Linked DNA regions of Homo sapiens. The protein of the gene in region 1 purifies or fractionates together with the protein of each later gene. This does not show direct contact. Each region holds a gene or a part of one and is shown in the gene's direction. Other genes may lie near its edges. The genes, in order: RD3L and WRAP73.

What was found.
Region 2: the proteins of RD3L (region 1) and WRAP73 purify together in Homo sapiens (co-immunoprecipitation; one large-scale study listed by IntAct). This does not show direct contact.

What each region holds. Positions count from the first base shown.
Region 1 is NC_000014.9:103,939,847-103,944,025, reverse strand, and holds RD3L (protein RD3-like), read left to right. Parts: upstream 1-1,496; 5' UTR 1,497-1,934; intron 1,935-2,323; 5' UTR 2,324-2,330; coding exon 2,331-2,629; intron 2,630-2,922; coding exon 2,923-3,220; 3' UTR 3,221-3,600; downstream 3,601-4,179.
Region 2 is NC_000001.11:3,632,955-3,636,774, reverse strand, and holds part of WRAP73 (WD repeat-containing protein WRAP73), read left to right. Parts: intron 1-744; coding exon 745-831; intron 832-1,480; coding exon 1,481-1,615; intron 1,616-1,700; coding exon 1,701-1,778; intron 1,779-3,271; coding exon 3,272-3,377; intron 3,378-3,820.

The sequences.
Region 1 (4,179 bases):
TTTAGTATAAAATTTGGTAGGACACTTCTGTCATCATAAACTTTACTCCTTTCCTTCTCCTAACAGTATATGCAATGTCATGTGAAAACCTTCCAGTTGACAATAATCAGTCCTGACATCTGGCTTTTTCTAACATCTAAGCAACAGGAGCTGTAGGGTGGCCACACACGTCACTCTGGGTCATGCATGACATGCAAGTCTGATGTAAACAACGTCTACTCTTCATGGCTCACTTGAAAGGAAAAGCAACAGAAGAAACAAATACTATAAAAGGGAAAACCACTATGCAGTCGTTTCACAGAGAACTGGGGAGTAAAAGACCTTTTATACTATCTACTCTTTAGCAAAAGACAAACACTTGCATAGGAAATTAGCACAGGCCAGCGCAGTGGCTCATGCCTGTAATCCCAGCACTTTGGGAGGCTGAGGCAGGTGGATTACTTGAGCCCAGTTTACGGACCAGCCTGGGCAACACAGGGAGACCTTATTTCTACAAAAAAAAAAAAAAAAGAAATGTATGTGTGTGTGTATATATGTGTGTATTATATATGTGTGTATATTTATATATACATATATAATACATATACATATGCGTATATATACTTATGTGTATATATACATATATGTACATATATAAAATACATACACATATGTACATATATAAAACATATATGTATGTACATATGTGCGTGTGTATATATTTTTTTAAACTAGCCAGGCATGCCGTAGCATGCACCTGTGGTGGCATGCACCTATGGTCCTGGCTATTCAGGGGGCTGAGGTGGGAGGATCACTTGAGCCCAGGAGGTCGAGGCTACAGTGAGCCGTGATCATGCCACTGCACTACAGCCTGGGTGACACAACGTGACTCTGTCTCAAAAAAAAGAAAGAAAGAAAAAAGAAATAGCACAATAATGACCATTACAAACCAATATGCACCTAAATAGTAAATATAAGTTTTTCATCCTCAGCTCCAAAAAAAAAACACGAAAATGATTTTTCTACGATGAATTATAAGATTTTGTTTAGAATTTTGTATGTTCTTATGCCTCTATTTTTCCCTGACAACCAATTACTGCCTTATTACCATATTTTCAGAGATTATAAAGTATATTTTAAAGTTATCTAGCTGTTTATTATGTCCCCTAGCATTTCAACTTGCTTAAATATACAAATTTAACTATTTTGAAAAAACCAAAATGAATACAAAATGTAACATTTGCTAAATATTTCACAATTATAATTCACATCAGCATTCTTTACCTATTTCACTCAATTACAATGAGTTTTCTCAGAATGTATGTTTTGCAAATAGTCAAGTCTAATCTATTTTTCCTGTTTTCACTAGAGGGGACAGTGACCCGGCTTCCAAATGGCCTGAAAGTTAAGCTGAAGAATAAAAGCAACGTGGCTATTTTTAGAGCTCTACAGGCATAAAAATACAGCACTAAACTGTGACCTACAGCTATGCACAGCAAAGCATCACATCACGCGACAGTCTTCACTCTAGCTCGGAGCGCATCTATGGTGCTTTAGACGACCATTCTTCGTTTCACTACCAAAGACATGTCGGAATGCATTTAGGACCAGCATCTATAGCTGCTGGCATTTTTTTCAAATAGACTGAGCTACATTGAAAAGGCAGACCATTATATAACTTGTGAAGATTAAATAGTCAGTTATTTTTGTCATTTCTTCTAGCTTACTTACAAGGTGAATTAATGAGCATTCTCTCCAAATGAAGACATCACAGCCTCATTCCTAACACAGAAAGTTATTTATTTCAAATACAGTTTCGGTGGGTAAATAAGGTGGCGCATTCCTTCTACAGAGGACACACCTAGGAGAGCAAGATACGTCCCAGTGAAACACAGCTTCGTCACCAACTTCAGTCAACTCTTTGGCAACATCACATCAGCCCATCAACTTAACAGGTAAGCTTTAAACCTTTTCTGTCCAAAACATAAATCAAAAGTATCTGTAGGCAGCACTTGCCCCGACATTAATATTTTAAGTCTCTTAAGAACTTTTCACAGCAAGTGTTAGTGTTATTTTCGGATATCATTCAGTCTATATGTTATCTCTGACTTTGTATATCTAATTTCTGCTAAGCTACATAAAAGCATTTTCAAAGCTTGGTTTCTGCCACTGACCTAGTTAAAAATTAAGACGTTAATCCATGTTCTAATCTTATTTTGACCTGCATAGCTAAATGTGAAAAAAAATCGTGCACTTTTCGGGCAAATTTATTGTAAAGAAACAAATATTTGCTCAGAAGAACATAACATTTTGAGCAAATAAACAAGTGAAAATATTTCCATAGGCTAAAAATGCCACTTTTTGGCTGGATGAAATGGCCCAAAAACGATTCCTACAAACCCACACACTATCCTGGCTCAGACATAGTGACAAAGACTCTGCTTCGGGAATTAAAATGGCACCTAAAGGAGCGAGAGAGATTAATACAAGAAATCGAAAATGAACAAAAAGTGAAAAAAACAGGTGTGGATTACAACTGGCTCAGAAACTACCAGAATCCCCACACAACTATCCCAGTGACTGAACAAAGACAACTTGAAGTTCTTTGCTCACAAGTTCAACCTTGCCAAACTGGAACTATTCTCAGCAGGTAAAAATACTATGTTCTCTTATGATTCCTGCTACTGCTAAGTCCAAGTTCCTCATATATTTTGACTAGAAACTGTATTCTATCATGTAAATTCTTTAACTGTGTAGATGTCTGGTGAGCAATTGTTTTAAATTACATTTAAAATTTCTTTACTAGAAGCATAATTTTAAAACAACATGCAAAATACTCAAAAGGTGGGTAACTTGTATACATTATTCAAGCTGTATTTTGGAGATAAAGAGATATAACAAAAAATGTTCTAAACTGAATATTCATTACCATTTCCCCTCTAGATTTCGAGAAGTTTTGGCAGAAAATGATGTACTGCCATGGGAAATAGTCTACATCTTCAAGCAAGTTCTGAAAGACTTCCTAAGCAGCTCTGACAGAGGGAGTGAGCAAGAGGACCTGGAGGACTCAGGGAGCATGGACTGCTCTGCTCCTTCTGTGATCCAAGGTGACAGCTCCAAGAGGGCAGACAAAGATGAAATACCCACCATTTCCAGTTACGTAGACAAAAACACAAAGGACAGGTTCCCAGTGTTCTCACACAGAATATGGAACCTACCATATTATCACCCATCTAGTTAAGTTACTTACAACTAGAGGGGTTTTTATGAACACCTTAGAACTCCTAATATTAAGAATAAGAAAAAGTGATGTGACTTCAAGTTTTTCTTTGTTACAAGGTCAGTATCCTGTGGATGTAGCCTATGTTTTAAATAGTGTTCTTTTTTTAACCACTCTAAACATGCTATGTTTTCATTGAATAGTATGCTTTTAACTAAAATGTTTCCTAAGTATTTTGAAAAAATGTTTGCAGTATTTTCTTATACCTCAAACCCACCTCACAGGAACTAAAGCAACTTTAGTATGAAGTCTGACAAATTCTGTACAAAACTTAGATATTAACCTTGACTTTTATTCTACAATGAAGCTACATATAGAATTAAATAAATTATTAATACGAATCCTATCTTTACAACATAACAGAAATGAGAAGTCAACATCCCATTATACGATCATTCTCAGCAGGGGATGGGGAGAAGGGCGGTGAGGGAAAAAATATCATGCAGTTTAAAAATGAAGCAGGGCTTTAACCCAACGCTCAGCTTTGGTTTTAATCACAGTACTTTTAAGCTCAACATTAAGGGAACGTGTAATAAAACTCAGCTCTATCAGTAAAGATAAATAGACTGATTTAGCAACATGAGTAGCTGCTACTCTCAAAGAAAAACATTCACTGTTGGTGAATAATTTAAACTTATACTCTGGTGAAATAGCAAAATATTTAATATACAAAATCTGGCTTTTCATAACTTTATTAAAAGTAGGAAATTATACATTAGTCAGATTTTTTTTATAAAGTGATACAATTCATTCTTAAAGTTAAGTCCAAGGAACCTAATTATAACTTTATATTTGAAGATTTACTGGTTTTCTTTCATCTAAAAAGAAAAAAATATACGTATCAAAATTGGAACTAGCTGGGTGTGGTGGCACATACCTGTAGTCCCAGCTACTCAGGAGGTTGAAGCAGGAAGCTCACT
Region 2 (3,820 bases), on another chromosome or scaffold:
AATATGCTGTCACATTTGAGCCCTTTTCCTTGTCCTGTGTGATGGTGTTTGCGCATGTGTGTGCCACGTCGGGAGTTGGGGGGACGTGGAAGTTCACCTTGACTGAGGGCCTGCATTAGGCAGGGCGCTCTGCCAGGTGCCCAGGCACAGAGGGCACTGCCCCCACAGCAGACATATGAACACGATTCCAGCACAATCCATCATTAAGGTAGAGCAACCTCTGGAATGCTGTCAGAGTGCAGAACCCGGGATCCAGGCAGTGCTCTGGAAGGGACTTGTCTGAGCTGGGTCTAAAGGAGTGAGCCTGGCCAGGCAAGGAAAGGTGAGGGGGAGAGTGTGCACATGAGTGCAGGTGCGGGGAGACCAAGCCACCTTCGGGGGCTGGCCAGGCAAGGAAAGGTGAGGGGGAGAGTGTGCACACGAGTGCAGGCGCGGGGAGACCAAGCCGCCCTCGGGGGCTGGCCAGGCAAGGAAAGGTGAGGGGGAGAGTGTGCACACGAGTGCAGGCGCGGGGAGACCAAGCCGCCCTTGGGGGCTGGCCAGGCACTGACGCTGGCATCTGTGGCGGTGCAGCCCCAGCAGCAGCTCTACAGGGATTTCATGCATTTCCAGGATAGAGCTGTTGAGATTTTGTCAATTTCTATATAAGGAAATTAAGTGCGTTAAGAACATCAGTCATAAATGCAATTATTTATTTACGAAAATATTTTCCAAATTTAATGTTTCCCCCCCTTCCTTTGGAAGCATTTTGATACGGACACCCAGGATCTCACAGGGATTGAGTGGGCCCCAAACGGCTGTGTGCTGGCAGTGTGGGACACCTGCTTGGAGGTATGAAGATGACCAGGTGACATGTTTGCTTTCGAGAGCTTTTCCCGGAATTTCATGCTTTCTGAATGCTGCAATATAGTTTGCTTTATCTTATTTCAGATAACAAGTTGAGCTTTGTTTTAAAAGACAGGGTCTTGCTCTGTCACCCAGGCTGGAGTGCAGTGGTGTGATCACGGCCCACTGCAGCCTCGACCTCCTGGACTCAAGTGATCCTCCTACCTCAGCCTCCCAAGTAGCTGGGACCACAAGCATGCACCACCACGCCCGGCTAATTTTTGTATTCTTTGTAGAGATGGGGTTTCACCGTGTTGCCCAGACTGCTCTTGAACTTCTGTGTTCAAGTGATCTGCCAGCTTCGGCCTCCCAAAGTGCTGGGATTACAGGCGTGAGCCACAGTGCCCGGCCGAGTTGAACTTTTATCAGCGAGCCATTAGGTTGACCTCCCAATTTCCCCTTTTTCCTCATGCTCTCACTGCCTCTCCGTGACTATCTCAGTACTAGCTGGCAGTTCCAGCTTTTCCACGGCCACGCGGACAGTCCTGCCAGCTTTGTGCTATCTGCACCAATGTCACTCTGCAGCACCCGCGTCTGTGGTGTGTTCCTGGCGACGGGGGTGTATTCATTATTAACTGAAATGTCTCATCTGCAGTACAAGATTCTGCTGTACTCATTGGATGGCCGGTTGTTGTCCACGTACAGCGCTTACGAGTGGTCCCTGGGCATCAAGTCTGTGGCCTGGAGCCCCAGCAGTCAGTTCCTGGCAGTTGGGAGCTATGATGGAAAGGTGGGAACCAGTGCAGGGCACTCAGGAAGTCCGACCGCCCAGCGGGCCGGGCCCTGCCTCACCTGTGCATGGTTTCCTTCCTCAGGTGCGCATCCTTAATCACGTGACTTGGAAAATGATCACGGAGTTTGGGCATCCTGCAGCCATTAATGATCCCAAGATAGTAAGTCTGGAACACGTGTTTCTGCCTGAGCAGGCTGTTGGGGAGGGCGGTGGGAAACTGCTCCTTCACTTTGCTTTCTTGATTGTGGTTTATTATTTAACCGGGCACTTCCATCACCGTAAACTTGCTACTGTGACATTTCACGCGTCTGGCCCTGCCCTGGCCTTTGTTCTTCCTCCTCCACGCTGCCCAAAGGGTCTGAAGTGGGCCTTGCCCTGGCCTGTCCTCTGCCGCTGCCACCCCAGTCCAGTTTTCTCCTTTGTGGTCTGTCTGGATGCAGATCCCTGTGCTGTACAGAGTGGCCAGGGTCTCCTGCCCCCAAACACTGGGCATCTGCTGTCGTGCCAGGCACTGTGCTCTGGGCCGCAGCCAGAGAAGAAGAGACAGACCCCTGCACTTGCAGAGTGCGGCTGGAGAGACAGGGAAGGGGCTGGAGAGCTGGGTGTCTCCACGGGGTGGCAGGGAGTGGCCACCAGCGAGGGATCGCAGGCACAGATGCTGCACCAGTGATCAGGGACTCGGGGAGGGAGCGTTCCAGGCCAAGGGAACAGGAAATGCAAAGGCCCCGAGGAGTGGGCCACGCATCCATGTGTGCAGCGGGCACTGCGCTGGGAGCCAGAGACAAATGCTGCCCTCCTGGTGTTGACCTGTAACCGACAGAGCTGAGTGAAAGGCGGCTTGGATTCGATGAAGAGGCCAGTGAGTGGCTGGGGCTGCGCATGCCAGATCAGCCACTGCCGGGGATGCATCCTGGAGGGGTGTTTAAGTGAAGACCAGGAGGAGGAGCTGCGCGGTGTCTGGGCAGAAAGGGTGTTTCAGGCAGAGGGGCCTCCTGACGTGGCCAGTGGCTTGTGTGGCTGGAGGCCAGGGTGTCTGGACAGGTGAGCCCGAGCAGGGCTGGCCACACAGGTCCTGAAGGTTTGCCTGTGATTCCTGCATTCTCCAAATCCCTTCGCCACACAGCAGCAGAGCATGCTTTAAAGGCATGAACCAGGCCAGGTGACTCCCTTACCTGGGGCTCTTCAGGGGCGTAGGGGCTGCCCGCCTTCCACTGAGCCTGGGCCGCTGTCCTTTGCTTGCCAGGCTCTCGGGCACAGATGCCCCCACCTCGGGTCTGTGTCTGCTGCTCCCGGGGCCTCTGCTGTGTTGGTGCAAGTGTTCTCTGTATCCTCTTATCACGGAGGGAAGGCTGAGCCCACTCCCTTGCTGGATGATGGTGGCTGCAGTGGTCTCCCGTCTGTAATCACAGGGCACACATTTGCTGCCTGTGTCTCAAAGGGTGGGCTCCTCAGCAGGACACGAGAGAGGGTGGCTGGGTGATCTCAGCTCTCGGGACTGCGGGGTTCGTGCTTCCGTCTCTCCCGGTGGCAGCAGGACCAGCTGTCATGGCAGGCACACCTGTTGACCATGCGCTGTCATGGGCATTTGCCACGTCCATCCTTGGCTTCCGGGTCCCTGTCCTGAGCCGGGCGTGGCCACCTTGTGTCTTTCAGGTGGTGTATAAGGAGGCCGAGAAGAGCCCACAGCTGGGACTGGGCTGCCTCTCCTTCCCGCCGCCCCGGGCCGGGGCCGGCCCTCTCCCGAGCTCAGAGAGTAAATGTAAGTAGCACATGTGATGTCATTTGTTTTCCTTTTTTAATGCAAGATTCCTCGTTGTCCAGATAAACTTCGGATGTTCCTTATGTTTAAAAAAAAAAACTTTTTTTCCCTTCCATGCTTCCAGCCAGTGTGCCCCTCAGCCTGTTGGCTGGAGGTTGACTAGGGTCTGAATTGCGCAGTGGGCCGTGAAGGTGCGGCTTCTGTTACTGAATATGAGCCCTGGAGACCCGGATCTGACAGCGGGAGCTCCGAGGGGATGTTTTTCCGGAGCTCCGAGAATGATGTTTTTCAAAGAAACACTTTTCCGTGGGTGGCGCTCAGAGTGGGTCTGGAACCCGGCGGTGCTCCCGAGCGCTGTCTCCGGCTTGAGGCCCGGTTCTGATGCAGCCTCTTGACTCTGGGCATTTCCTATGTGTCTGTTTCCTCATCGCTGAAATGGGCAT